Regions from separate parts of the Homo sapiens genome. Here region 2 is linked to region 1. The links come from fine-mapping of genetic effects on plasma protein levels. A gene starts in region 1. The other region holds a variant in brackets. All regions are shown on one strand. Distances are from middle to middle. Region 1 holds the start of TREML2 (triggering receptor expressed on myeloid cells like 2). Region 2 has its middle 19 kb from the start of NCR2.

Evidence for each region. PIP is the chance, under the fine-mapping model, that this variant and not a neighbour inherited with it causes the effect. The UK Biobank Pharma Proteomics Project read protein levels with antibody pairs (Olink). The fine-mapping took linkage between variants from a reference panel, not from the people measured, so its PIPs are less certain.
Region 2: its variant is fine-mapped to the plasma level of the TREML2 protein (UK Biobank, PIP above 0.99).

Annotation. Positions count from the first base shown.
Region 1 is chr6:41,193,260-41,209,144 of GRCh38, reverse strand. TREML2 (triggering receptor expressed on myeloid cells like 2) reads left to right here and starts at 7,996. Exons shown (of 5, transcript NM_024807.4): 1 at 7,996-8,191; 2 at 10,716-11,036; 3 at 14,312-14,720. The coding sequence starts at 8,137. It also overlaps the pseudogene TREML3P. RefSeq lists enhancers at 543-652, 7,708-7,777.
Region 2 is chr6:41,308,439-41,324,323 of GRCh38, reverse strand. It overlaps the pseudogene RPL32P15. Among named protein-coding and RNA genes, the nearest start is that of NCR2, 19 kb to the left of the region's middle. RefSeq lists an enhancer at 4,583-5,124 and a silencer at 5,333-5,402. The variant A/C (reference allele first, on the strand shown) is at 8,870.

The sequences.
Region 1 (15,885 bases):
ATGGAGGTTTCTGATTGTATCAGCCCAGCCTTGCCCCAGGACCCTTGGGTGCATGAGTCACAGCATGGATCCAGGATGAATCCCAGTTCTTCCCCTGCCCAGCTATTGGGAGCTGCCCTAAGCGTTGCCCCCCATTTGTCTGTGAGGAAAGGCCAGCACTAAGCCTATTGGAGAGAACTTTCAGCCCCTGATCTCCCTGGTGGTGACCCCTCACCCCTGCACTGACCCCTCTTAGATCTACTTCCCCTGCCCTGACTTTCGCCATTGGAAAGACCTGGGGTGGGGGTTTCTGCATCCGGGTCAACGCTCAGCTCAGCATCTTCAGCTGTGCCCGGGCTCCTCTCCAGCACTCCGTGGTTCTCTCAGCCCCACCTCAGCAGGTCTCCAGGATGCCTCACATTTTCCCTGTTTGTTAGTGGTCTACCCGAGAGTCCTATCAATTTCCTCTTGTGCTTGATTAAATTCAACCTCTGAACTGAAATGTGTCAGAGGCAACTAAGCAAGAAAGCAGATGTATCCCCTCACCCTCCTCCCCTCCCACCCTAAATGAGAAAGAAATGACTTAAAAATAAATAATAAAATTGAAACTAAGAAAGGCTGTAATCAGCAGACTGGAAACTGAGGAAGTCCTAGAAGTAAAAGAAAAAATCAGATGCCTTAAATGACAAGAGCAGTGGATTCAGCAGCCTAAAACAGGACCCAGAACATTCAATGGAATCTCATCATCAGGGGTCAAAATTCTGTTTGTTTAACGTGTGAGGAGATTCATAGCCTAAAAGAGAAAATCAAGTTGAACTAACAATATTTGATGGTGGGTGAAAGATAAATGTTTTGGGGAACAGAAGAGGAGCACACATCTGTGAAGCAAGAAAAGGCACAGTCATTTTCCAACCAGGTAACATCTAGCGAGACTGGGATTGACTACTCAAAATGGGGGTCCACCATGAACAACCAATTTGGGGTACCACTGCATAGCAGCTGAATGCCAGCCCTGAAAAAGGCCACCATAAAGAAAGTACCATTTTCTGGCCGGCTGCAGTGGTTCATGCCTGTAATCCCAGCACTTTGGGAGGCCACGGTGGGTGGATCACCTGAGGTCGGGATTTCGAGACCAGCCAGACCAACATGGAGAAACCCCATCTGTACTAAAAATACAAAATTAGCTGGGCGTGCTGGCACATGCCTGTAATCCCAGCTACTTGGGAGGCTGAGGCAGGAGAATCGCTTGAACCTGGGAGGCAGAGGTTGTGGTGAGCTGAGATCACGCCATTGCACTCCAGCATGGGCAAAAAGAGCAAAACTCCGTCTCCAAAAAAAAAAAAAAAAAAAAGAGAGAGAGAGAGAGTACCATTTTCTTTTGCTCTTTCTGGGGAGGGGCATTGATATGGTTTGGTTGTGTCCCCACCCAAGTCTCATCTTGAATTGTAGCTCTCATAATCCCCATGTGTTGGGAGGGACCTGGTGGGAAGTAATTGAATCATGGAGGCAAGTTTTCCCTTCCTTTTCTCCTGATAATGATTAAGTCTCATAAGATCTGATGGTTTTATAAAGGCCAGTTCCCCTGTACATGCTCTCTGCCACCATGTAAGATGTGCCTTTGCTCCTTCTTCACCTTCTGCCATGATTGTGAGGCCTACCTAGCTATGTGGAACTGTGAGTCCATCAAACCTCTTTTTCTTTATAAATTACCCAGCATCAGGTATTTCTTCATAGCAGTATGAAAAGGGACTAATATAGGCATCGAACAGAAGTCTCTTCATGTATATCTCAGCTCCTTCCACATGACCATCACCTATCTGTGAGAGGCACAACTTTTGCTTTCTTTATTTTTTTAATCCTCATTCCCTATTTCCACTTGCCTTCCCCTCCAAGGCAACCACTCTAATGCATGTGATATGTAACCTTAAATTTGAATATATTCTTGTAAAGCCTGCAGCTTTTTTTTCTGTGACTGTATTTTAACTTACATATAAGAAATTGTGATAGACATTTTTCATATATTCGTTTTGCTCCTTCCCGGGTACATATACAGAGCCCACTTCTTTTCAGTGCTTATTCCATTGTGTACATATCCCACAGTGTATCATTCTGAACCCAGGGTGCATGTGCTGTTTTGCCTCCACTTCTTCATATTGCAAACAATGCTGTGAGGAATATTGTCCATCATGTTCTCTGGTAGAATCAGGTGAGATTTCCTTTAGGACTTATACCCAGGTGGCATCAGCTGAGTTTTACGATCTCAGATGTCTAAGTAATGCTGTCAGCTTGTGTTGCCCGAAACACGAATCTAGACACTAGAGATTATTTTCTGTGAGTCTATGTGAAGTACACAGCACAACCTATGGAATAGTATTGCCAATAAAAAAAAATGGAAGGCAAGAGTAAATGTAGCTGAGTGATGCTACATGGGGGCTAGAAGTATGATTATCTTTTTAAAAAAATTTTTTTCGAGTCTGAGTTTTGCTCTTGTTACCCAGGCTGGAGAGCAGTGGTGCGATCGTGGCTCATTGCAACCTCCGCCTCCCAGGTTCAAGTGATTCTCCTGCTTCAGCCTCTGGAGTACCTGGGATTACAGGCACCCACGACCACGCCCAGCTAACCTTTTGTATTTTTAGTAGAGATGGGGTTTCATCATGTTGGTCAGGCTGGTCTCAAACTCCTGACCTCAGGTGATCCACCTGCCTCAGCCTCCCAAAGTGCAGGGATTACAGGCATGAGCCACCGTGCCCAGCCGATTATCTCTTTTTTGTGAGATACTTTTGTGCATGCTTGGGAATTTTCATAATTAAAATGATACCTAAAAATAAACAGTTGTGTGTCGAAGCCACTGCTGTTTGGTTTTCAGTCATATGTGGCTGAACCCAATCTTTTCTCGATTTACTGAACTTATGCAACTGCAGCAGATTGGGACGTGTTCACTTACAGTATGGAAATACTGAGCTTCACTTAAAGAACATGGGTAGTGGGATAAAAGTGGACTAAACAAAAATAGGTCTTCCTCAATCAGATGCTAAGAGCTAGCATTTAGTTATAACTTTTAAATATTTTATCTTAACATCCTTGGCCTCAAAATTGTCGTAATTCCCTTAACCACAATTTTCAAGTGGGTGGCAAATTTTATGTCATAAGTTAACATGTAAAAGACATATACTTCTTCAAAATTTTGAACATATTTCATTGTTTTCTTACCTTCCCAGTGTTGCTATGGAAATGTCTGATAACAGTCTGATGGTTATTCATCTTTACTGACCTATTTTATCTCTGGAACATTTTTATAATTTTCTCTTTGAATTTTTATTATAGTATGCTTAATATGGGCTATTTAAGTATCCATTCTATTTGGAACTCTCTGAATACATTCAATTTGATGTCTTAGATATTTGTCTAATTCTGAAAAATCCTCGGTACCATTTTTTCAAGTATTAATAGTTCTTCTGCTCCATTTACTCTTTTTTCTTCTTCTGGGAACAGAATGACAATAGAATATGTGGGAACTAAAAACGACAATAACCAAAATTAAAAGCTGACTACGTGGACTCCGTAGGAGAGTGGAGATGACAGAGGATGTAATTAGTTAACTGGAAGGCAGACTGAGAAAATTTACTCAGTCTGATCAGAGAGAAAACAGACTGAAAATAAATGACCAGAACGTCAGCTATCTGCGGGACATTAACATAAGAGCTAACCTTTGCATCATCAGAGTCCCAGAAGGAAAGGAGAAAAAATGTGAGACTGAAAATGTATTCAAAGAAACGTCTAAAGTAATCAAATCTGCCCAAAGACCTAAAGTTACAAATACAAGAATCTGATTTTATCCCAAATATAATAAGCCCAAAGAAATACACACCAAGACACAGCATAGATAGCCTTCTGAGAAGTAAAGACAAAGAAAATATCGTAAAAATGGCCAGAGAGAAATAATTATCTATAAAGGAATACCAATTCTAATTGTAGTGAATTTCTTATCTGAAACAATTGAAGCCAGAAAAATGTGGCACAACATTGTTCAAATGCTGTAAAAGACAAACAACACAATTGAATAAATATTTTTCCAAGGGTATACAAATGAGCAAATTGTGCATGCTCAAGATGAAGATGCTCAATATCATTAGTCATTAGGTAACTACAATTCAAAACTTAAGTACATTCACTGGATGGCTGTAAACAGAAAGCCAATACAAGTATTGGAGAGATTGTAGAGAAATGAGAACTCATACATTGCTGGAGAGGGTGTAAAATTTGCAGCCACTTTGGAAAACTATTGGTAGTTCCTGAAAATGTTAAACATAGAGTTGCCATATGACCCAGTAGTTCTACTATTGGTTATGTACTCAAGAGAAATGAAAACGTATGTCCACACAAAAACTTGTACATGAATAGTCATAGTAACACTGCTTATAATAGTTGAACAGTGGAAACAAATAAAATATTTGTCAACTGATAAATGGTAAACATATATATCCATTCAGTGGAATATTATTCAGCCTTTAAAAGGAATGATGTATTAATACAACGTATAGCACAAGTACAGCTACAACATGGACAAACCTGGAAAACATGCCAAATGAAAGAATCCAGTCACAAGGAACACATATTGTTCAATTATGTTTTTATGACATATCCAGAATTGATAAAGGCATTTTTGATTGAAGATATTTTTGTCTAGAAAGACAAAAATATTAGTGGTTGCCTGGGACTGTAGGAATGGGGACTGTGGTAAGCTGATAAATGGTCTCTTAAAAGATATCTGTGTCCTAATCCCTGGAACCTGTGATTGTTACCCTTATATGGCAAAAAACAAAAAAAAAATGATCTTTGCTGATATGAGTGAGTTAAACATCTTGAGATGGTGAGATTATCCTGGATTACGTAGATGGGAACTAAATGCAATCACATGTATCCTTATGTAAGAGAGTCAGAGTGGGATTTGAACACAAAGAGGAGAAAGTGATGGGAAGATGGAGCAGAGGGAGACTGAAGATGCTGGCCTTGAAGATTGGAGTAAAACAGCCCCAAACCAAAGAATGCTGGCAGCTACCTGAAGCTGGAAAGGCAAGGAACAAATTTTTCCCTAGTGTCTCTGGAGAGACTGCAGCCCTGTCGACATCTTCATCTCAATACAGTGTGAACTGACTTCAGACTTCTGCCTTCAGAATGGCGAGACAATAACTTAATACTGTTTTAAGCCACCAAGTCTGCAGTAAACGGATCCAGGGAGTGCCTGCTAACGGGCATGGGGTTTCTTTGGGTGGGGAAATCCTGCAAAATTGGTGTTAGTTGTACAACTCAGTGAATATATTGAAAACCACTGAATTGTATGCTTTAGATGGGTCAGTTTTATATTATGTGAATTATAGCTCACAGAATTGTTGAAAAAAGTCATTGTGACCTTGGGTTAAGCAAAGATTTATTAGATATGACATAAAAATTGATTCATAAAAATTATATATTGGACTTCACCAGAATAAATCAACATAAAGTGCTTCACTTTTCCATTCTGGAAAGAGAGAAATGACAGGAAAAAACCCCACCAGATCAGTGTTTGTCTGGGACTGAAGGGATGACTAACAAGGAGCAGAGGAAAGCTTTTCGGGATGATGGCACTCTTCTCTGTCTCCATTACGGCATTGGATACAAGTCTCTAGAACTCCCAGAACTCGTCACTGAAAAGGGTGAATAGTACTGTATGTAAATTAGGCCTTAATTTTTAAATGGGAAAAATAAATATAAAGACAAAATACACTGCTGTATTAAATCAAATGATAGATGTAAAAGTCTAATGTATACGTATTTTTAATGATTTTGACCAATGCTTCCAAATTTCTCTTAAGAAAGATTGAATCCAGTGCATACTTCCTCGATCAGCGAATGAATGTTTGATTCTTTCTACCCTCATCAGCACAGTGATCCCAAGGGTCACACTTTAGACGATGATTGGCTCAGTGCTGGGCGCACTGTATCAGTTTCATAGAATCATGGATTCCAAGCGCATAAAGTCCCCACAAGAGATAAATCCCCCACTCCTGAAGCAACTTACTGTTCTGATGGGGGAAGGGATGGAGGAACTTACTGTGTGTGCTGGGGAGGGGAGATGGCCCCTGAACTCAGGGAGCTCAGGAAGTTCTGAGGACTGGGTGAGAAACATTGAAAAAGGAAGGGTGAATAAGGAAAACAAAACACGTCTGTGAGCTGAGAGGTCTCAAGTGACAATCGTGTCTCATTCCTACGCCCCCAGTGCCTACCTAGCCCCATGCATAGCAATGAGGTTGTGGGAATGAACAAATGAATGAATGAATTAATGAGTGAGTGAATGAGTTGAGAGACTACAAAAGCTTAGGGTCAGCCGAGATAGACTTCTTTGCTTGGAGCTTGGGGCTTCAAGGTCAATTTAAGATTGTGGCCATGCAAGCTTGAGGACTTTTTGCTCTGAGTCCTGTTAAAATTAATGAAAATGGAGACCAGGCCTGAAGAGTCCCTGAGCAAAAATTAAAAAAACAGTTAGGCCTCATAAGTGACCTCAACTTTGCTTGATTTGCAAATATCAGTGAAACTTAACACGAGCTATTTCTTGTAAATGTGTATATTAAGGAAAAATAGAACTTAAGCTCAACCAATCAAAAGAAACTTATATAATTAACTAGGGTCTTTCCAACAGGATAGGCCAAATAAGGGAACTATATAACTATAACTAATTAAATATTTTCTTCAGTTTACTTGTCCTGTAGGAGTCTTCCCCTTGCATTCCCCCAGTGGAGCTCCTCAACCTCTTCTGTTTGGAGCTGCCTGATTCATGAATTGTTGTTTGCTGAAATAATCTGTTTAAAATTTTATTGTGCCTCAGTTTACCTTTTGACAGTCCCATCTAAGGAGTAGAAACATGGCACTAGTGAGTAGGGGGAGCATACATAATCACGGGAGTCCAGCTGGGTCCCCACACACTGAAGGAGCAGATGACACAGGTACCGGACATCAAAAATTGATGCTTCTGATTCTAGGCCTTGGGGTAAGTGAAGGGTGTGGTCTTGGGCCTAGTGCTGGGTCATTTCCACTGGAGCTGGTGGCTGTACAGGCGAGATAGCATTGAGCAGGAGGAAGTGGAGGGCACTTGCCTGCGTGCTGACGTAGGCTGGAGGCAGGGGAGGAAGGGGGTCTTGAGATGAGGTGGGTGAGGGGAAGTACTGCGGAGGCTGTAGGAAGCCTGCACGAGGGACTAGGAGTCTAGAGGGAGCTGATGGTGAGTAGAGTCGACAGGAGGAGAGGCAGGGAGAGGGACAGAGAGAGGAGACGTATGGATAGGGAAAAGGAGAGGCTGCTGGGGTGTGTGTGAGACTGTGTGCATGGGCGTGTGTGTGTGTGTGTGAAAGTGAATAAAAGACAAAGTGAGACTGTGAGTGTGAGTGCATGTGCATGCACACCTGTGTGTGAGAGTACAGGAACCCCTCCCTCAACCCAAAATTTATGCCCTGAGTCTTAACAATTTGCATTTTTCCCGCTTGACAAAAGTAAGATTTCAAGTGAGCCTGTAAGAGGTTATTTGCAACAGTGAACACAAGTGACTGTTCTGAGCAGCCAGGAGCCTGGGAGAGAGAGAGAGGAAGGAACAGAAAGAATCTGCAATGAATGAATGAATGAGAGTTTATAAGAACTTCCCTGTGAATGTATATATGTAAGAAACTAGGGTCTGAGATGCTCCATCTCAGCCTAAGAGCCCGCACCCCTGGGTCTCTGAGCCCAGAAGATTCCAGGAAGGTCTATACCTGACGTTCCAGAAGCCTCACCCCAGCCCCCTTGCTGGATCCTAGGGACCAGTTTCTGGGGGAGGTTGGGGAGGGCGGGGAGCCCTCTGACTGTGAGTCCTCCCGGCTTGGGGCCCCAGACTGGGTGGAGCAGCCACACCTGCCTGAAGTTCCGAGGAAAAGGGCGGAAACAGCTGCCAGCACCGCCCTCATAATAGGCTCAATGAATCCCTGCGGTTGGCTGGGGGCAGTGGGTCCCACACTGCCTCACTTCCCTAAATGGGCAGCTTCACTTTTAGAACCCCGGGTCCTTCCCTGGCAGGCCCAGGTGGCACATCCTGTGTCGGGTGGGCCCTCACCTTGGATCTCCAGGCCTGACACTGCCCAGCTGGATGGAACCATGGCCCCAGCCTTCCTGCTGCTGCTGCTGCTGTGGCCACAGGGTTGCGTCTCAGGTGAGGGGAGAAGGGGCTGACTTGTGGAGGAGGGAGTGGGTACAGAGGCAGGAGCTCAGGGCCTTTTTCTTACCCTCCTTACCAGCAGTTTTCTTGTTTAGTGTTTTGTGGGTTGGGGAAGGAGGAGATTAGGGCTGACTTAGCTCTTTACCCTAATATCAGGCCCCAGGCGAAGCTAACCCAGGCCTCCCAAGCCAAGATAAAGCTCTGGACCCTCTCTGCATTGGCTCCTTTATCTGCTAGGCTTCCTCAGGCTTTAAAGCAGAGCCCTCAATTTCCTCACACAAATAGCTTTCTCTGCTTGGCCTCTGTCAGGAAGCCCTGCTTAGTTATGACAGCAATCATTGCATCATGTGTGTTTTGAACTGAATTTGAACATTTTTCTTGAAATGCTGATGCCACATCCTGTCCCTGCCTCTGTCCTGAAGGGACCAGTGTGTGAATGCCTTTCCCACCTCACAGATACCAATGCTCCTTGAGGAACCTCACCCATTCCTGCCCCTCTCGCTGCCATGGCAACCAAGTTACCACTTCCTGTTCAGTTCTGGGCATGGTGGGGGTTGGCAAAACTCACCACTGCCTGTGAGAGGGGTGGGAGGTGTAGGCACACATGAAGACATTGCCCTGGAGACCCATCCCAAGGTCACCCAACTCTGCACCTCCCAGAGGGTAGAGAAACAGCTTCCCACTGCCAGGGCAGAAAGGGGTCTCTCTTGTGCTAAGAAATCCTGGGCTCATCCACCAAATAATGAAGTTGGATCATTCTGTTTAGTTTGCAAGGGACAGAGGGATGCTTAGAGAGGGTGCTGCTTCACACAGAGCCTCAGCTCTAGTGGCTGCTGGCTGGGACTTGGGACGGATATCCTGGATTCTGGTGGGACAGATGTCCTGGATTCTGGGCCCTTGACTGTCACAGCTCTGGGTTCCATTGGGGGAACTGGGAGGCCCCAGCATGTGGGAAAAGGAAGCATGAGTTGAGCATGCACTGTGTGCAAAGCACTGACCTGGGGCAGAATTCTCACAGCAACCTGTGAGGGGTGTGGTGCTATTCTCACTTGACTGATAAAGAAACAGAGATATTTCTGTATCAGTCAAGTGTCTGTTTTGATATTTCTGTATCAAACAGGTGACCTAATCACACCACTAAGTGGTAGAAACAGGGTTTCAACCCTTGTTTATTTTGACTCCAAAATGTGTGCTCTCTGTTCTCTACTATGGGGGAGAGTCTTTTTATATGTGGTTTTTTTGGAAGACTCTGGGGTGAAATTATCAGAAGAGTCAGCTGAGCTTAAGGCAGGCAGAGGGGTGGAGGGAGCCCAAGGCAGCTTTCTCCCTCTCTCTGTCCCCTGAGTCACCCTGCACACCCCAGTTCTGCTCTGTCTCTACCAGACTGTGGATTATGAAGGCTTGGACCACATCTTACTCCTCAGCATAGAGAGAAAGATATTGCAGGTGGAAAGTGAATAATTGTAGAATCCTGTGGTTCACACTCCATTGGGAGTTTGTTTACATGTATATTTAGACAGGCTTGATCTATGGGTTTTATGTAACTAGAATATTTTAAAACTAAACACCAGATGGAATGAACTAAGGAGAGTTATTATTTAAAGAGGACTAAGTGAACCTATTTGTGAAATAAATAACTGTTAATCATATTTTCAAATACTAGATTTTCTTATCTACCTAGTTAGTTGGGCACTGAAATTTCACAACTTAATGACCTGTGTTTGTGTCTCTGCATCTGTCTCACTGAGGGCATGACCTGGGTTTTTCCCACAAGAATTCCCTGGGATGCCGGGCACAGTGGCTCACGCCTGCAATCCCAGCACTTTGGGAGGCCGAGGCAGGTGGATCACGAAGTCAAGAGATTGAGACCATCCTGGCTAACATGGTGAAATCCCGTCTCTACTAAAAATACAAAAAATTAGCCGGACGTGGTGGCAGGCACCTGTAGTCCCAGCTACTCAGGAGGCTGAGGCAGGAGAATAGTTTGAACCCAGGAGGCGGAGGTTACAGTGAGCTGAGATCGTGCCACTGCACTCCAGCCTGGGCAACAGAGCGAGACTCCGTCTCAAAAACAAAACAAAACAAAACAAAACAAAACAAAAATGAATTCCCTGGGAATCCCTGAAGACAGAGCTTGTCACTTTCCCATCAGACTAGAAAATACCATGAGGAAAGGGGCTGTGTCTGATGGAGCTCCGAGTGTAAATGCTGCGTTTCCTCCATTAGACTGGGGACTCACTGAGGGATATACCTGCCTCCTCCATCAGACTGAAAGCTCCCTGAGAGCGGGGGTTGTGTCTCCACTGTAATACTGGAAGCTAGCTGTTTTCAGGGCCCATTCACCTCCCTTCAGATTGGGGCAAGCTCCCTGAAGGCGGGGCTGTATTTCCCCCTCAATCTGTGGGTTCTGTGACAGCAGGACAATATCCACTCTACCCTTCACCATGATCTTCAACTTTCATGATGTCTTCTTCCTCTCCTCTTGCCAGACCTTATTCAATAAGTATTGTCTCCACAGGCCCCTCTGCTGACAGTGTATACACAAAAGTGAGGCTCCTTGAAGGGGAGACTCTGTCTGTGCAGTGCTCCTATAAGGGCTACAAAAACCGCGTGGAGGGCAAGGTTTGGTGCAAAATCAGGAAGAAGAAGTGTGAGCCTGGCTTTGCCCGAGTCTGGGTGAAAGGGCCCCGCTACTTGCTGCAGGACGATGCCCAGGCCAAGGTGGTCAACATCACCATGGTGGCCCTCAAGCTCCAGGACTCAGGCCGATACTGGTGCATGCGCAACACCTCTGGGATCCTGTACCCCTTGATGGGCTTCCAGCTGGATGTGTCTCCAGGTGAGCAGGCTGCAGTGGCTCTGGGACGGGTGGAGGGAGTCCCTCCTGCCCCACACTCCACTAACATCAGAGATAATAAGGATAATAATCCATCAGTGGTCATGTTGCACTGTAGTGTTTTCAGAGTGCCTTTATGGCACTATTCGTGGCACTATTGTCACCATTTTACAGATGAAGATAATGAGACCTGAAAACCCAGTGTGACTCTGAGCTTGTCCGGGGTCCCAGAGCTAGCAGGTGGCTGAGATAAGGTTCAAACTTGGCACTGTCTGTGCTGTGTTTTATTCACTCATTGCTTCAACATAATTCATTGAGCCCCTATTATGGGGCAGGCACTATTCTAGGCTCTAAGGAGACAGTGAGCAAAAACACTCACAATCCTGCACTATGGGAGATGACAGGCACACTTATTATCCAGACAAATAATTGCAGAAAACAAGAGGTGTTCATAAGAAACTAGGAACTGTTTCAAATAATTGCAAATAACTAGAGGTGTTCATGAACTAGTAAGCGACTCGGTGGTGGGGGAGCTACTGAAGTACTGGGGGTCAGAGAACACCTCCCTTAGCAGACAACACCAAGCAGAGCCCTGAATGGTGAGCATTTTCCAGCCCTGTTGAAATCTGGGTGCTTTGAAGAGCACTTTGTCGCAAGAGCTGAATATGCAAAGGTCCTGAGGTCAGAAGGAGCTTGGCTTGTATAAGGCTTATTTAGTCACTCTATATGGAGTGTGAGGCAATGAATGAGGAGGTTGGAGAGTCAAGCAGCCCTGAAGACCATAAGTTGGAATTTAGGTATAAGAGGAAGCTACTAGAGAGCTCAGAGAGCTGTCATGACTTGTTTTTAAGAATGTAGTGGCCACTTGTTGAGGATGGATTGTGAATGGTATGAACACGGGTAGAGAGGCCATTGTGGGCATCTGGCTGGAAACAACAGTGGCCTGGAGTACAATGTAGGCACTAGTGGCAGAGAGATGTGAATGGGCTCAAATCTATGTTTTTCAGACTTTCTGTTCAGCTCATATGTTTTGAAGGTAGGACAGGATTTGCTCAGTTGAGGGGTGAGCCAAAAGGAGGAATCATGGATGATCCAAGGTTTTCTATTTGATCAGCAGGTGGATGATGGTACCATTGATAGCGTAGGGTAAATCTGAAAGAGGAGCTAATTTGGAGGAGAAAAATCAAGAGCTCTCTTTTGTCATGTTAAGTTTAAGATACCTCCTAGAACCCCAAGTGGGGAAATGCAGCCAGCAGTGATATACCTGCCTGGAGCTAGGGTGAGAGGTCAGAGCTGGGGTATGTATTTGAAAGTATCTCTATAAAGATAGTGTTTAAAGTCCAGGGAATTAGAGAAATCTACAGACACAGAAAGTAGATTAGTGGTTGCTTAGGGCTGGGGGAAGGAAAAGGGGATACAGAATCATAGATAAACAGTAAGGGGTTTCTTTTGGAGATGATGAAGGTGTTCTGAAACTCACTGTGATGATGGTTGCATAACTTTGTAAGCATAATAAAGAACCACTGAGCTTTATACTATAAATGGGATGTGAGTTATATCTCAATAAAGTTCTTAAAAATATCAAGATCTAAAAGCTCTCCCTTGAGTGTAGGCAAAAAAGAGTGGAGCACCAAGCCGTGGGGTCCTTCCACATTTATTAGATAGAAAAGGGAAAGGACTCAGCTAAAGACCCCGGAAAAGGCAGCCAGTTATTATGCAATTTACTATCCATCCTTCCCCGTTCACCTAACCCAATTGCATCTCCATCTTCCACAGGGTCTGAACTAGGGAAAATGCTGTCGCTAAAATGTGGAGCCAAATCTCATTGCTCCCCTCTCCAGTTCTGAGTGAGACCCAGGGAAGTCGAAACTGGTTCACTGAAGTCTTAATATTTAGGGATAGAAACATTAAACATTATATGCTTTTATTTTTTCTCATCATTTCCTCTAATCATGTTATGTCACATCTCACTTTCCACCTCTTAAGGACAATTTGTGAAGATTTCAACTTTGCAGACCTTTTCTGTTATTAGGAAATAAAAAAAATCCTTATTCCAACTACAAACTCTGGTCATCTAGCAGTATAGGATATTCCACTGCCCCCTGAAGACCAGGTTTTATGGTCCAAGGCATCTAAAGTGGAGAAGGAAAGTTACTGGCTGCCCAGCTCCCCATCCTGCATCTTGGGCTGTGAAGAAGGCGGGGTTCCTCTTGGTTACCTCTTCTTGGCCCTCTTAGTGTGTTGATGCAGGAATGAGGGAGGGGGAGATGGTTATGTGGCTTAACTGAGTGTTGTAGGAATGCTTTCCCTGTTGGATGTCATTGCTTGTCTGCCAGCCCTTTGAGATCCTCTCTGAGTGTCCATATACTCTCCCAAGGCACTGATGTGTGAATTCTCTGAAGAGTTCTTTGGGGGTGTCCCCACTGCTGAGTATGATGTTGTGGGAGCTCTGACTCCAGGTGAGCGTCTTCCTCTATTCCCATCCTCACCAATGCTGCTTGTTCTGGGTCCCCTTCTCCAGAAAAATGGCTCAAGCTCAGCCACCTTCCATGATGACAATTTGGCCCTTAGGAAATTGCCCTTTCCATGCACAGTAGTGGGATGTAGCAGCCTCTGTCTCCAATTTTCACATTCCATGCTGAGATAAAACCATCACTCACTGCTAGGTTGATGCCTCACAGCTCCTCCACCTCCCTCCTCATCCACTGTCCAAAACCCAGGCTTCTTCTAGAAAATGGGATGGAAAAGGGCTGGGTTGATGGGTGAGTGTAGCAGGACCAGTTTGATATCTCTTAGTGAGCCCCCAAGGAAAGTGTCTGACCCCAACTGACTGCAGCTTTCTTTGGAATTTGAGGACCTTGATGCCTCCTTGTCCTCATCTCTGGACCCTACTTGTCAATTATGGAATAGCTGGAAAAGTTCTTGTTTGACATTATTTTATGGAAATCTTTTTGGCCCATAGGAACGAAGAGGGCCTGGAAAGTGAAAAGAGAGAGATGGGGATGGAGAGGGAACAGGTGGCCTGACACGGGAGGGAAAAAGAAATTGTGGTAGTCTCTCCCTTCTTCAGTACACCTACTTCCTTCCTCCTGATATCACTTTCTGAACAAATACACATCTGATCACTCAGCAGCCAGAATCCTAGGCCCAAGGTCAAGGAGAAGAGAAGAGGACAGGCCCCCATCCAGGCTTCCAGGCAACTGTGTGGGTTGCCAGGATCTGCTCCCAGCACTGAGGCACCCAAGTCAATCTAACGTTCCTCCCTTTCTGTCTTTCAGCTCCCCAAACTGAGAGGAACATTCCTTTCACACATCTGGACAACATCCTCAAGAGTGGAACTGTCACAACTGGCCAAGCCCCTACCTCAGGCCCTGATGCCCCTTTTACCACTGGTGTGATGGTGTTCACCCCAGGACTCATCACCTTGCCTAGGCTCTTAGCCTCCACCAGACCTGCCTCCAAGACAGGCTACAGCTTCACTGCTACCAGCACCACCAGCCAGGGACCCAGGAGGACCATGGGGTCCCAGACAGTGACCGCGTCTCCCAGCAATGCCAGGGACTCCTCTGCTGGCCCAGAATCCATCTCCACTAAGTCTGGGGACCTCAGCACCAGATCGCCCACCACAGGGCTCTGCCTCACCAGCAGATCTCTCCTCAACAGACTACCCTCCATGCCCTCCATCAGGTACCTGTGGGGCCTGGGGTTGAGTGGCACCAGCACTTAGTGCCCAAACAGACCTGGAGGTGCAAGTCTTATATCTGACCTTCCCCTTTTGCTCCCCAGGAACCCAATGTGGCCTGCTTCTGAATGTGAGGTGGGGGACTGGAAGTGACATAAAGGATGGCAATGGAGAGGAGGGGCAGGAGAGAGGAGGGGCAGGGGAAAGGAGGGTCGGGGGTGGGGAGGAGGGGCAGGGGAAAGGAGGGTCAGTGGGGAGGAGGGGCAGGGGAAAGAAGGGTGGGGACAGGAGGGACAGGGGAAAGGAGGGTCGGGGGAGGAGGATCAGGGAGGAGGAAGGTCAGGTGAAAGGAGGATCAGGAAGGATGAGGGTCAGTGGGGAGCGGAGTTGGTGGGAGGAAGGTGGGGGAAGTGTCAGCAGAGAGGAGGGTCGGGATAAAGGTAGGGGGAGATGAGGGTTGCAGGGATGAGGGCAGGGGACTATGAGAGTCGGGGGCATTAGGGTCAGGGGGATGAGGATGGGGGTAAATGAAGGTTGTGGGGGAGGAGAGTCAGAGAAGAAGGTCAGTGGGAGGAGTATCAGGGGAGAGGGGGGCTGCAGAGATGAGGGTAGGGGGCAATGAGAGTTGGTAGAATTAGGGCCAGGGGGGATGAGAGTCAGAGATGAGCATGTCAGGGGATGGGTGTCCTGAAGTGTCTGTGGATGGAGAGGAGAGGGTGAGGATAGGGCAAGGATGCGCCTCATGGAGTAGGAAGTGGAAAATGGGGGATGCTTTAATTTGGATTCCTCTAGAGAAACTGACTCTGAGTCAGGGATTTGCGTCTTATATGAACACTGGAAAAAAGGTGGGGGAGTGGGACAGGGCAGGGAAGGCCTCTAATAAAGAGTACTTAACCAAGCAGCTGCTGTGCACAACAAGAGCCTAATCCCAACGGGGAGAGTCAGATCTAGCATAAAACACACATCTGAAGGGCAAAGGAGCCCGCATAGTTACACACCAACTCCAATTGGTTATCAGTAGAGGGCTGCCTGCTGTGTGTGGCATAGAGGGCTCTAGTGACAAGAGAAAGGCCTCAGCCTCCCACCCACAGAAAAGGAGGTGCTGATGATGTGTGCAGGTGGAAATGACACAGGCAAGAGGACACAGGCAGGGGCCCGACAGCATCTGCT
Region 2 (15,885 bases), 120 kb before region 1:
TGCAGAAATAGAGTAATGTGATAGTCAATTTTAAGTTAAACATTTCGAATAAACGATAATCCATTATAACAAAAATAACCATTTCAGACATAGAAATATTTGATAGAATTTACCAGTGAAGTCATCTTGGCCTCCAACTTCAAGAGAAATATAGTCTTTAGCAAGACAAAATGCCATAAATATTTAAGAAAAAGCTAATATTGAACTTAAACTCTTTAAGAAAACTAGAAACATATCTCAATTCATTTTATAAGGCTCAAATCAGCCTGATACAAAAGGCAGGAAAAGGAATTAGAAGAAAGGAAAATGATAGACCAATGTCCCTCATGAACATCCTGAACACAGTATTCGTGTACTGAATTTAGCAGTATATAAAAAAGGTAATACACATGGCCAGATGGGGTTTATCCCAGGAACTCCAGGTTGGATTAACATTTGAAAAATCAATCAGTGTAATTCATGATATTAAAAAGAAAACAAAATATAAGGTCATATCAAAAAATGTAGGAAAACATTAGAAAAATTAGAACTATAAGCAAACTAGGAAAATAAAGGAACTTCCTTTTCCTAATAAAGGGTATCTGCAAAATACCTATAGTCAGAGTTACCTTTTATGATGAAAGACCCCATCATTTCCATCTAAGTTAGGAGAAAAGGCAGGGCTATCTCTCTCAGCACTTTTCTTTAATATTGTTCTGGAGATTTAATTACTTGATAAGGCAATAAAGGGAAACAAAGGGCATACATATTGTAAAGAAGAAGGAACATTGTCTTTATTCATAGACAACATGATTGTATACACATTAAATCCTAAGCGATCTACACAAAAAGCTATAACAGCCAATACTGAAATTTAGCAGTGTTTCAGGGTACAAGGTCAATATAGAAAACTCAAATGGACTATCTATATAATTGCAGTGTACCATAGACAAATGAAAACTTTTAAAATGACACCTAAAACAACATCCTAAACCATTAAATGCTTAGGGATGAATTTAACAAAATATGTGCAAGACCTATACATTCAAAACTATAAAATATTGATGAGATAAATTAAATTAAAATCTTTATTTAGTCTAGGGTGTTAAGGGTAAGACTAGAAGAGCTGTTTCTGTCGGTTCACACACATATAAGAAAATTTCTACTTAATTTTGAGCTACAATTTACTTAAATACATATATCCACGTATCAATCATCATTATCAAGATATAGAATGTTTGCATTACACCAGGAAGATAAGATAAATTAAAGAAAATCTAAATAAATGGAGAGAAATACCATGTTCCTGAACTAGGAGACTCAATATTGTTAAGATGTTAATTCTTGTCAAACTGATGTATAAACTCAATACTAGGTTACGTCACAGACACAAACCTAGTAGGCATTTTTGTTGAAATTGACAAGAGGACTCTGAAACTTACATGCACAGGGCACAGAGTAGCCAAAACAATGGGAAAAAGAAGTACAAAGCTGGATAACTCACCTCTGATTTCAGGACTTACTATAAAATTACAGTAATGAAGACAGTGTGCTACTGTAGTAAGGACAGACAGTTAAATAAATAGAACAGATTAGATAGTCCAGAAATAGACCCACACATATACGGGCAACTGATTTTTAACAAAGCCACCAAAGCAATTCAACGGACAAAAGCAAAGTGTTTTCAACAAGTGGTGCTAGGACAACTAGTTATCCATACAGAAAACTTAATTCTAAATGAATTATAGTCATAAATGTGAAAGTTCAAACTAGAAAACTTTTAGATAAAAACACTGGATGGCCGAGCATGGTGGCTCAAGCCTGTAATCCCAGCACTTTGAGAGGCTGAGGCGGGCGGATCATGAGGTCAGAAGTTCAAGACCAGCCTGGCCAACATAGTGAAACCCCATCTCTACTAAAAATACAAAAAATTAGCCCGGTGTGGTGGTGTGCGCCTGTAATCCCAGCTACTCAGGAGGCTGAGGCAAGAGTATCATATGAGCCCGGGAGGCAGAGGTTGCAGTGAGCTGCGCCATTGCACTCCAGCCTGGGCGACTGTGCGAGACAGCGTCTCAAAACAAACAAACACACAAACACAAAACAAAACAAAACAAACAAACGAAAACACTGGAGAAGATCTTTGCCTGTAACAAATTTTCATATACATGGAATCATACAGTGCAGATTATTTTATATGTGTCATCTTTTGCTTGGTCTAAGGTTTTGGAGATTAATTCATGTTGTTGGTGTATCATAGACCATTCCTTTTTACTGCTGAGTAATATACCATCGTGTGATGTGCTGCTATCTGTTTATCTGTTCACGTGTTGAAAGACATTTGGGAGAAGTGTATTAATTGTAAAGGCATGTGAAAGAACTTCCTGGTGTAATGCAAACATTCTGTATCTTGATAATGATGATTGATATATGGATATATGTATTTAAGTAAATTGTAGCTCAACACATTGAGTAGAAATTTTCCCATATGTGTGCGAACCGAAACAGCTCTTCTAGTCTTACCCTCAACACCCTAGACCAAATAAAGATTCTCTGAGCTGGAGGAGAAGAAAGAGAGGAGTTGAATGAAGTAAGAAGAGTGGACTTAAGGCCTGGGCTGGTGTGCACCTGTCTCCTGTCCCCAAGATCAGGCCAGGGCCCCAGTGAAATGTCAGGATCTGATAATAGCTGGTATCGTTTCCTTATTTCCTGAAACATGTCCTTGGGAGGTGGGGAATTTTACTCTCCCACCCACACTGGCATGGTAAAAATTATAAAAAATAAATTCATGGGTTTCTTAAGCAAGGGATAGAGATCCCAAAGTCATAACTCCTGAAATGCAAAACCTGGAAGTTTTTTCTTGTGTCTAAGAGTGAAGATGATCAGGTGGTGACAGTCACGGCTGGCCTGGTGGGGTCTGGAGGCTGGGTGAGGGGAGACACCAGCAGGTGAAGCACGGGCTCCGTGACCTGGGCCTAGAGGGGACCGCATACCTTAGCAGATGGCAGCCTGGAGAGGGAAATGAGCATGAGAGAGGAGTGGAGAGCCTCACCTGGTATTAAGCTAAATATGCAAGAATGATGGATCCTTATCCTGTGTGTGTTGGACTTGTTTTCACAACCTCATTGCCAAGGAGCTACAAGTGTAGCACACTTGCAGAGTCAAAGTAAAGGGCAAGTTCAGCTCAAAAAATGATTACCTGGGGCTGGGCGCAGTGGCTCACACCTGTAATCCCAGCACTTTGGGAGGCCGAGGCGGGTGGATCACCAGAGGTCAGAGGTTCGAGACCAGCCTGATCAACATGGTGAAACCCCGTCTCTACTAAAAATACAAAAATTAGCTGGGCATGGTGGTGCATGCCTGTAATCCCAGCTACTTGGGAGGCTGAGGCGGGAGAATCACTTGAACCCACAAGGCAGAGGTTGCAGTGAGCTGAGATTGTACCACTGCACTCTAGCCTGGGTGACAGAGTGAGATTTTGTCTAAAAAAAAAAAAAAAGATTGCCTGGGTTTCCCCAAACAATGCTTTAAACCCTTATGATGATTGTAAGGAACATGGCTGAGCTGCAGCCACATAGGCATAGGCTGAGGTAAACATCCCGCATGACTCAGCGGGACTGTAGCACAGGCACACAGTCTGGTGTATAATGTAAACACAGCTATGTAGCCATAACATGGAGAGGCTCATCGCCTGGCTTGGAGCCACTATTGTTTGTGAGGTGCATAAATGCAGCACCGACAGTGTGAGTGAGCTGCTGAATAAAGCCATGTCTCATCTACCTGCTGTCTCTTGAGTATTCTTCCAGCTCCCTGCCCTCCTGTCCACCTGCTCCCTTGGACCTCGGCTGGGGCTCAAACCTAACAATGATCAAAATGGAAAAAAAATATAAAGAAAAATTCTAAACTTAAAGATGCAAGGTAATTTTATTTGCTTCTTGTAGAATATTGTAAAATTTTGACAGCTATGAAATCTGAGACAATGGTGCTAGAATCATATGATGTCTGTCCCAAATTTGTGTAGAACTTGAAAGTGACAAAGAACTTTCAAATCCATTGTCACAGACCCTCCAGATCTTTTCCTTTGTCACCAAACCCTCCAGATCTTTTTCGGCCTCCTCTGCCTGATCTTCATCTCCTTCCACCTAGATGACAGCAAGAGCCCCCACCAGGCTCCTTCACTCACAGGTTTCACCTGCAATGTGGGTTGCACCTGCTGCACCTGGCCCTGACCCCGGAGGACACAGAATTAGTGCTACACTGTAGAGGACATGTGGAGGAGTGCAAAGAGCTCTGACTCAATCAAGGCCCCACTCTGATTAGCTTGATTGCACACACATGTGTGCATGTATGTGCTAGTGTGTATGTCCAGGGAGTGGTAGGAGGTATTGGGAAAGGAACTCAGGCCTATTGAGCTCTGAGACACTCACCCTTGAGTGTTTTCCTGAGCTGGTGGGAACCTCTGCAGGAGACCCAGGGCAGAGGGCCCCAGGCAGGAAGACCCAAGGGGAAAAAAAACCCACAAAAAACAAAAACAAAAAACATCTAAAAGAAGGCCACTGAAGTTTATCCAGAGCTATTCACCTCAGAGATTTCATAGGAGAGAATCTGCATTTTACAGACAGGGAACCTGAGTTCCCTCGAGGGTGTAGCATGCTGAGACGGTCAGTGGGCAGGTAGAATGCCCTCCTGGGACCCTTGTGGGCTCAGCTTCTTCCAGATTCTTCTCATGTGCTAAATCTTGGTTCCAAGGAAAGAAGTTACAGGTATTCCCTAGAAGAGTAAACAGAATAGATTCTAGAAGCAATTGGGGACCCCCCAGGGCTGTTTCCTCTAACAGGGCCACAGACTACTCCGTTCCCTGACGGCGACTTCCGGTCTCACATTTCCTGGACACCTCCCAGAGCCCTGTTCCCGCATAGCGATGAGACCCAGGCTCCTCCCAGAAAAGGCAACCCTTCTCAGGATTGGGGACCACGGACTGATTGGGGACCTTCCTCTGGAGCTTCTATTCCTGGGGATTCAACCTGGGCTCCCCACAGGACTGAAGGCCCACTTACACAGCACTGTCTGCAGCCTTGCGGGGTCTGAGACTCGCTATGCGTGGAGGCCGAGAAACGTGGACTCCACCTTCACTGTCTGCTGGTTAGGGAGGACTCCCCTGTCACACGGCAAAGAGAAAGTCAGAAGGGCCACAAAGAATAGAGTGTGCGAAGGTGTTCTGGCGACACTGCAGAGAGGAGACCAGGGAAGAATCAGAGAAACTGCAGGTGGCTGAAGATGCGCGCACGCGTGTGCACGCTGGCTGCAATAGCAGCCTCTGGCCAGCAGGGGGCAGGGGCAGCCTGTCCATCACCCCGGAGCGTAATCAGACGGCTCAACTCGGCTGTGCGCCCTTGGAGGCACACTGAAGAGCCCTCTGAAGAGCCACGTACGCAGCACCCTGGCTCTGCTTCCTGTCCTCCAGGACAGCGGCACGTGCAGTGGAAGGAGTGCTGGGCTGGGCTCCTGATGCCACAAATTCACTGGGGGGAACCTTAAGGGAATCACAGGGGATAGTGGCGACCGCTTCACAAGCATATTGTGGAAATGAAATTAGACTAGTCATTCTCAGACTCCTCTGCATGCTGGGATCATCTAGGGAGCTTCAGAAATGCAGATGCCGGATTCCACCCCAGTGCGCCTAATTTAATTGGTCCGGGTGTGGCCTGGGCTTTGGCATTTTAAAAATATTCCTCAGGTAATTCTAAGGTGCGGAGAAGTTTGGGAATTCCAGGGTCAGATACTCCTGTGACCAGCCACTGTAAACTCTAAGTTGCAAACTTGCTTTTACTCGTTTGCCTGAGGTCCCTTCTTTTCTACCTTGTTTCCGTATAATTGAAATTCGATCCCATCTGCTAGCTCATGTGTAACCTCTTCAGAATGGAAAATGCAGATCTGTCTCACGGTCTGAACTCAAACCATTCAAACATTTACTCCCACGAACTGTAGAAAGTTTGCCCAAAATTCACGATCTGATTAAAAAAATCCACTATGACAAACGTCTGCAAGCACCAAGGAAGACAGTCAAGGTGCAATGAGTGCAGGAGAGAGTGGAGGGTCCGTGGCTGTGGTGCCTCTGACGTTCCCCATTGGAAAGGGTTCTGGGGTTCTCACTGTTTAGTTCTGTCAGGCACCTGGGGGCACGACAAACTCAGGTCTAATTTAGATAAAATTCTAGCTTTAACTCAGTATTCCATGGTTATTTACATCACACTCCATGTTCATTACAGTGTAGAAGGGAAATATAATTTGTGTACAATACCACGTGTGCTGCACACGAACTCATGCACTAACAAGACTGTTCAACGTGAAATAATGTGGTATTTGGCATTTGGGGGATTACTGTTGTGCGTACTTTTTGGAGCATGTTATAGAAGATGTAAGAGGTTGCAGTAATAAGTGGGGACATTGGTTGGGGGTAGATGGCCTGGGAACACTTTACTCTGGCTCCTATGTGTGGTAATTAATTCAGACTCATGCTAGCTGAACATCGCCATATGCCACACACTGGCATGGACACAACCTTACCCCTAGAACTGGCCATGCCATATAGGTCTTTTTGACCTCAAACCAACTTTGGGAGTGTCCAAAAGGGTCCCTGGAATATCTCAAAAGAATTTATCTTCTCTTCTTGTAAAAACAGACATGTTAAACTAGTGAGGCTTATTTGATATGTTAAATTGCATGAGAAGCAATGTCAAATAATGGGTGATGCTAAACCTTCTTTAAGTTATGTTTGTTATTGATGAGTGTTCCAGAAATTATGTCAAATTCCTAGAAATCTGATATGTACTAGTATAATGTTATCATCCATAATTTTAATTATTATGTTAAAATGTCGTATGTTACCAAAGCAACCAAACTCCCTTGTCAGTTGCATGACACAGAATTGTAAGAGATTCATGATAAAGGCTGATGAGTACAGGTTTCTGATAATTTTAAGCTCATACTATAAGGCTAGGTAAGAATTTCCAGACCTCTAATGGAAAAGTAATGTATTTATAAATCTGCTAACCCAAGATCAAGCAAAACAAAAATTAATTATGTGAGACTAAATTAACTGATGAGAATAATTATAATTTTTATAACTTTTCGTTTGAAACATTGCTGGTTCTTTAATGTCTTGCTTTCTAGATTTAGGAAAACTTTTTTCTATAACTTAAAACAATTTGATAAAATATACTTTTGTAAACAAAAAGAAAACGTTTTTTTCCTCCCTACCTGATCACCCCATAATTTGGAAGCACTTATTGAATATTCTTATTTTCATGGCAATATAGGTATTTGCATAGGTTCAATAAGAATCTGTTCTTATAACAAGACATAATTGGGTAAGTCCTTAACTTGGCCTCCTAGCCTAGAGAGGTTTTTAAAGGTCTAATCTGAGATTCCTTGTTAACAAATAGTAAAACAAACAATAAAATGAACAAATAACTAAGATTGACTTATACAAAGTCAATAAAGCCCCTTGGATATTATCAAAACTTTGACAAAATGATGTATTTTAAAAATATGCATACATAGAATCACTTTTCTTGTTGCACTTATGTAAATAATCAGATCAAGTTTAATGAGACTACTGATTTTGCACAAAAAGAAGAGTTAACCATGATTATTTTTGGAAAAATTTGGAATGACCATAAAAAAGATTGTATTTCAATAGAAAACTATAGCACCCATCATCAAATTCTGGTCTTTGTTATGTCCTTGTAAATTGGATTGAATCCTAACATTTTCTAGTTTCACTAGAAACTAAAACTGCTTTTTTCCGAAGCCCTGCCAGCTGAAATTGGATGACTTTAAATTCAGAAAAATTACTACAACAGACCATGTATGGAAAATTTTCATGCTGCTGCTGTGTGGGTCACTTGGAGAATTCACTGGAACACCTGATGATATTTCCAGAGACATTCAAACTGCAAGCCAGGAAAATCCATCAGGTTGCAATTGCCATCCTCATTCCATCATCTAAAAATGCTTCAAACTCAAATTTAGAAATCTTGACAGGCTGCTCTCTGGACTTAAAGACTAAGATCATAATTTGTTCCTAATGTTAACCTTTTTTTTTTCTTTTGTTTTTATAGAATGCTACCTTGAATTCCCTTCAAGCAATACTATCTGAAATAAACAATTTAACCTCAATAGTACTCCAAAATAGAAGTCCTTGATACCTTAGCAACTTAACAAGGAGGCTCTTATTTGTAAAAAAAAATATTGTTTCTATATTAATAAATTAGAAATTGTTGAGCCCAATTTAAAGGATCTTAAGGAACAAATATGTCTTTTATCAGACAGGTGTTGCCTCCTCCACTGATTTATTTTATTGGTGAAATATTGGCTCCTGGGAATCTGTGCTCCAGGGAATTTAAAAATCCTTGGCTATTATTCTCTCTGTAGTCATTTTGTTTACCATCCTACTATATCTTATCCTCTCAAGGATTTCAAAGCTTTCCAGAAGGCACTCACACATCAAATGATTGCCATCATCATTAATTGACTTGAAGAACTCAACAACCCTACCACTGAAGCCCATGATGCAGGTAATGATGCCATGTAATCTTATATCCCAATACAACTGTTGAGGATAAGATTACATGACTCTTTGTTCCAGTGACTATTTCACTAGTGGTAACTGAGAGGAATGCTACCACCTTCTTCTTAGCTTGCTGAGAGGGTGACCCAACGCGGTGGGATTGTTAAAGTAAATTAAAATGGAGACCAGACCTGAAGAATCCCAGAGGGGACAAAAGAAGTTATGATTTGTAAGTGACCTAAACCTTGCTTGATTTGCAAACATAACCAAACTTAACTTGAGCTATTTCTTGTGAATGCCTATATATATCTATATCTATAT[A/C]TATATTTTTAAAAGCAGAACTTAAGCTCAACCAATCAGAAGTTACTATTTATACAAACTTAGATAACGAGGGGCTTTCCAAGTTGAGAGACCAAAAAAAGCAATTGTATAACAGTAACCAATTAAATACTTTGCTTTACTTCTGTGTCTGTCTTATAAAAGTCTCCTCTTTGTGTTCCTCAGTGGAGCTCCCAAACTATTTCTGGTTCGGAGCTGCTCAGTTCATAAATTGTTCATGCTAAAAAAAACTCACCAAAACTCTTTAAAATTTTACTGTGCCTCAGTTTATCTTTTTAACAGTTCAAAAAAGATTAAAATAAATGATAATTATATTCTGTCCTGGAGAAGTAGGGAAAAAGTCATTCTTATGCATTGTTGGAAGGGAATAATTGATAGCCTTTTCTTGGAGAGCAGTGGTGTAATGAATTAAAAGTCAGAACAAGAAAAAACAAACAAACAAAAGCACATGTTTTGGAACCAGCATTTCTAAGTTTTGTTTTTTTTTTTCTCAGCAAGTATTTTGTTGAGCATCTTCCTAAAAAGTCATGCCTGCAGCCTTTTTTTGCCCTGTATGGATGCACTGCCTCCACCAGTTGGTACACAGCTGTCTCTTCCTCATGTTTCTGGGGCTTCTCTTTGTCTCCTCTACAACGTTTTCTTGATTCTTGGATCTTTGTTTACTCCTTTGTACTGGTGGAACCCATCCTTGAGTAACTACGGGAGAAAGGGGGAATGGAAAATACATTTTGACAACTTTTATATTTAAAAATGCCTGTTTTACCATGACAGTTTGACTGATATAAAAAATTCTGAGTTGGAAACAATTTGTCCTCAGGATTTTGAAGGCATTGCTATGTTACCTTCTTGCTCCTATTGTTGTTGAAAAGTCAGGAGCAATTATGATAACTATGGCAATATGTGATCTGTTGTCTTCACTTTATCAGCGTTTTCTTTTTGTTCTCGGTGTCCTGGAATGTCACAGGGATGAGCCTTGGAGTGTGTCTATTTCCATCCCTTTGCTCCGCACAGTGAGTGGCCTTTTCGATCTAGAAATTCACAGGAAAATTTCTTGAATTAGTTCATGCATGATTTTCCCCTCTCTGTTTTCTATGTTCTGTCTTTCTAGAACTCCTTTTATTCAAGCATTCACCTCCTGGATCAGTTGTCTTTTTCTTTTTTTTTCTCTCCCATTTCTCTGTTGTTCTCATTCTCTCTCTGCCTCCCTCTGTTTTGGAAACAGCCCTTGGAGAAAAAGTTTTCTGTTTTTATTTATGGTTCCTTAGGTGGTCTCTGTTTCTTCCCAGTTGCCTTCACTATTCTCTGTTTAGTTTCTTTCTTCTCTTTCACTTGAGAGCTTTTTCTCAGGCCTGGGTAACAAAATTCTAAAGATAATTGGATGCTGTGAGCCCACAGTGGGGCTGGTGCCCTGGGAGTTTCACAGGAGGGTGACTCCTTGGCCATTTGCTTGAGGAAGTGCCTTGTCAATATCATTCAGCCTTCTCTCTTGGGCTGCTCAGGATCCCCAGGGAAGACTCACCCCATCTCTTGTCTGGAGGAAGAAGATCTGGCTGCCAACTTTCTGGAATCCAAATAGGAGAAGAGGGCTGGAGTGTTTCTCAGCTTCTGGTACATGTTCTTCACATAATCCCATGGTTTTCAGGACATTGTCACCATCCTCACCTATACCTATTGCCCACCCCTTCCCTACCACACACAGAAACCCAGCCTTCTTTGCAACCTCTCTAAGGCATTCATTCCCAGTTGTCTGCCAAGGTGGGTCAAGGTCGCTCATCTACAGAAAGTGGCAAGGGGATCTGGGTTCCTCATTGCTTCTTAAACAACTTTCTACCATTTCTTCTTAATCGGACTCCCCTAAACCACCTCCACTTTCTCAGCCATCTTGGCAATACTGTTGTGTAAATAAGACTTGACTTCTGCCTTCCTCAACTCTGATGAAAGGTTCTGTTTTCTCACTTCTAAGTCATTTCCCACTTACTTATATATTTTTTTCAGCTCCCCAAATTTTCTTGCTATTTTACCTTCTAGTTTCCCTCGTTCCTATGTTTCCTGCATTTCTTTATGTTCATTTTTGTGGGTTTTAGGAGCGAACAGAAATAAAGGTGTATGTTCCATCTGCCATCTTTCCCTGAGAATCTGAACGATGATCTTAGATTACAGAATCTATGATCATAAATAAAAATGGGCTGATAACCCATTATTCTTATTTGGTCCTTGTGTGGTTTTGGTATTAATATTGTTCTAGCCACAGAAATTATATGAGCAGCTTCTCCCCTCTTTTCTATTTCCTGGAATAAATTGTATGAATTAAGAAATATCTATACCTTGAAAATTCTTCTGTGCCTGAAGTTGCCCTCCCCTCACCTCTCTAGCAGCTGAGATGGTTATATGACTGGATGTTGATTTTTGAATTGTTGTTGCTCTAGTCAAGCTTTTAATCTCAACACCAATTTTAATATTTTATATCTTCCAGAAATGTATCCATTTTATTTAAGTTATTCAATTTATTAGTGTATGATTATTCATAGTATTGTTATTGTGAAAGTCTCTTTTGGGTGTTCAGGTATTTCTCATTTGTTCTCTTTTCTTTTCTTTTTTTCTTTTGAGACAGAGTCTCACTCTGTTGCCTAGGCTGGAGTGCAGTGGCGCAATCTTGGCTCACTGTAACCTCCCCTGTCTCTTGGGTTCAAGCAATTCTCCCACCTCAGCCTCCTGAGTAGCTGGGATTGCAGGCGTGCATCACCAGGCCTGGCTGATTTTTTGTGTTTTTAGTAGCGACAGGGTTTCACCATGTTGGCCAGGCTGGTCTCAAATTCCTGACCTCAAGTGATCCACCCACCTCGGCCTCCCAAAGTGCTGGGATTACAGGCGTGAGCCAATGTGCCTGGCCTGTTCTCTTTATTTTCTCTTTGCACTTTTAAACTTGTCTCTTGATTAGTCTTTCTACAGATTTGTATATCTTGTTCTTTTTTTTTTTTTCAAGGGCAGTATTTTATTTTGTTTCTTCTTCACTCCCTCTTCTCTCTTTCACACATATATTTCTCTATTTATTTGATTTCTGCCTATCTTAACTAAGATAATCTTAGCTCCTTTAACAGTATAGTTCCAAATCTCAGAGAGTAAAAGTTGATTTCTTACTCGTCTAATGGATGGTGACTCCGCAGGACCATTCAGGGGCCCAGGCTTTCTGTCCTGTGGCTCTGCTGACCTCCAGGTCTTCAGAGTTCTTTGCCTCCAGGAGTGGATGAGAAAAGAGAAAGTATGGCACATGGGTGTGTTTATAGGCCAGGTCTGGAACAGTGCCCATCACTTCTGCCCTCACTGCATGGGCTAAGATGGGTCTACCTGAGCATCTAGGAAGAGAAGAAAATAGGTATTTGTGAGCACCTTGTAGCTCTGCCTCTCTGCCTTCATTTCTGTCTTTTCTGCTGCTTGGCTGCAAAGCTGCACATGTGCTGGGCAGGACTCAGGGAGGCTGAGTAGGAGGAGCTACAGGCAGGTGCTGCCCATGTCAACAAGGTGAGTTGAGCAACAATGCACCTGAGAGACCCTAGCACCTACACTAACCTTCAGAACATCGCACCTGCCACTTCACCTCTGCCTTCCAAATCTCATGAAAGTTTCTCTTGCAAACCCAACACAGAGCCATAGAGGTAAGTGGATCCTCAGAAATGCAGTTCCAGCTTATCTGAGTTGCTGTAGCACAAACCCTGTGCACCTTCTCTCTCTCCACCACCCTTTCCCTCTGTAGCAGTTGTCCCCATGTGACGTATGGCTCACTTTTTTGTCTCCATCCTTCCATGAGAATGGAAGCTCTATGAGGACAGGGTCTTCGTTTACCTTGTATTCCCATATCCCCAGTCCTAGAACAGTGCTTGATGTATAGCAGTAGGTAATAAGTATTTCCTAAATTGGAATTAGTTGAGTATTTATTTAGTGTGTACCAGGCTCTGCTGTAAGTGCTTTGAAAGGGTTAGTTCATTTAATCTTCAAAACACCCAATGAGGGAGCCACTAAACACTTAGAACTGAGAAATGGAGACTTAGAGAAGCTTTGTAAATCACTCAACTCAGGCAGCTCATAAGAGGCCGAGTTGGATTATAAATGCAAGCAAGGGACTCCACAGCAATGGCACTGTGATTTAGGTGTCATGAAAACTACGGTAGAAGTGTAAATGAATCTATATATTTCTTTCCTCATTTTATTCATTTATTTTTAATACAGCCATGTCATACAGAAAATAATATATATTTTTTGAGACAGGGTCTTGCTTTGTTGCCCAGGCTGGAGTGCAGTGGCACAATCACAGTTCACTGCAGCCTTGACTTTCTGGGTTCAGCTGATCCTCCCACCTCAGCCTCCTGAGTAGCTGGGACTACAGGCATGTGTCACCTTGCTTGACTAATTTTTAATTTTTTTTTTTGTAAAGATGGAGTCTCCCTATGTTGCCCAGGCTGGCCTCAAATTCCTGAGCTCAAGTGATCCTCCTGCCTCGGCCTCCCAAAGTGCTGGGATACAGGTATGACTCACTGTACCTGGCCCAGAAAATAATTTTTTTAACCCCAAAAAAGGCTAGACCACTCAACAAGGGTTAATGAAGTCTGATAACTTGCATATGTTATACTAAAAGTTGGATAAGTACTTAGTGTAAGTAGAAAAATAAGTAAAAACTAGTTCAAAATGTATTTGTGGGCACTCCTTAAAATTATATCCAATAGAAAAAGATACCTAAGGGATTGAAAAAATCTTTAGAAGAGCTATACCCGTAGTATTTTGTATGAAACCATTCCACTTGGTAAATAGGTTTCCCAGAAACATTTCTCAATAGGCAAACTGATCCTGAAGGGAATGGGAAGTTGACTTTTGCTAAACTACTCTGCTCTGGTGAGCTCTCTAGAGGCTATGTGACTCCCAGGCCAGAATACTGGGGTCTGCTGCTTCCCCCCACCACTCCTGGGACTGGAGGTACCTGAGAAAAGGAGAGCCCAAGGGTCTTGGAAATTGGCTTGGAGAGCTCATATTCTATCCCGTGAGGGTGGCTTGACCTTATGGGACACTCACCAAGGTGGAGCTGAGCCTAGAGGATGGCTGTGACCTTCTCAAGGGTCCATCTTCCCAGTGACCAGAGAGCATGGCCTGCCAGAGGCACTGCCTGCAGGCCCTGGAGACCACTGACAGATCCTTTATTGGCTTCCCTGGTCCGTTGTTGTCAAGAACCCTGGAGGTTACCATCCTGCTGCCCTAGGACCACCAGCGTGTTCTTGGGGAGCTCACAAACATCCCTCTCTCGTTGAAAATGGATTTTTCCTTCTGTTTTACAGAGGACCCCACAAACTCAGCTCACTCACTGTGGACTTTAATCAATGTTATGTTTGGAGCATTGGGGGTAAGAATACTCAGACACACTCACATATACACATGCATGCTAACCCACATACACGCACACACATAGGTACACAAATGCACATGCATACCTGTGAGCTATACGTGAAGGCACATTCCTGCACACACACACATAAACTCAGCTTCATTTAGGAACATATAATACTGCTATGTCCTTTGGTTTTCTCATGTCATATTCTCTTCCATTTCCATTTCTACATGTAGGGTTAAATCACACAACAGAACAAACACGTGTGGCTGACTTTTGCATGTTTGAGGCTGCAAGGCTGGAATGGATAGAGCATTCTTCAAAATCTTGACAGTTTTTTACTCTTTTGTAGGTCCCATGCTATTTTCTTAGAAAAGCATAAGAAGTGATAAGGTTGAGTGGTGGGTGGGTCAGTCCGTGGAGAAAGAATGCCATGCTGAGATAGAAACTTATTTTGGAGTCAGTGAGGTGTTATGGTAACTTGATTAAAGTTAAATGCATGTAAAAAACAATAGGATTTCCAGCTCCCAGTCTGGCAAGTAAGGAGCTTGAAAATTGTCACTCCATCCTAACAAGTAAAAGTTGATCAAGCTGAAAAATCAATAACTCTAGAGCCCCCCAAGCCTGCCCCTTCCCATCAAGCCTGCAATTTTCCTCTGACTCTGTTCCTGCTTCCTGATCTTCCTCTTTCCTGCTCTGTCTCTGTTCCTTTCTTTCAGCCCAGGGGTCCATGAACAAGGACAATAAGAGGAAATCCGTCTTCCTATGACCAGTGATCAATACTCTGGTCACTCTCTCCTGTGTCCTCAGGGTGCCTGGTGACAGTCCAGAGATCTCTCTGAGAAGACCAATCACAACAATGGCTCAGAGTATTCCTAACCCTTAACTCAGAATGGACTTGGTGGTGGGGGCTCTGGAAAGCCCTGGGCAGTCAGTCCTCAGTCCCGGGAGCAGTAGAAGCTCCTGAAATCAAATGGTCTCTGAGCATGACTTGCTTGGGCAGCTGTGAAATATGGAGCAAAACAATTAGGAGCATATAGAGGGGAATTCTTAGTGCACACTTTGGAATGATAGAAGTAACTGATGGTGACTGAAGCAGTGTCTCCAAGCCTGGGAAGACTAGTAGACAACTGCTTTGATATTCTTTCAGATGTCCTACAGTCTAAAGGAAAAAGAGAGAAGAGGCCCTGGTCCCACTCCCACCACCACTGGATGTAAATTTAAGCCTTGGTCATTCTAGACTTGAGGCATGGCTTCCAGACACGTGGATTCTTCAGATGAATAGCATTTCATGAAACATGTCACATTGCTGACATAGGCCAAATTTTTATTTTACCAGAAAAAAATTACTTTCATCTTCTAGGACCACTGTTTTTCCTAAAAGAAAAGACGTATTTAAATTGTGAACATTGCCTTGGTGGTAGAAGAACCACATCTTGCCCCTCTCTCTTCCTCGGTGCTGCCTATGGAGGTGGCAGCCATCTCTTCCTCGGCATCACGGCTGCCCTCAGGCCCCTTGTGAAGCCCAAGATCATCAAAAAGCGAACCAAGAAGTTCATATGGCACCAGTCTGACCCATACGTCAAATTAAGCCTAACTGGCGGAAACCCGGAGGTACTGACAACAG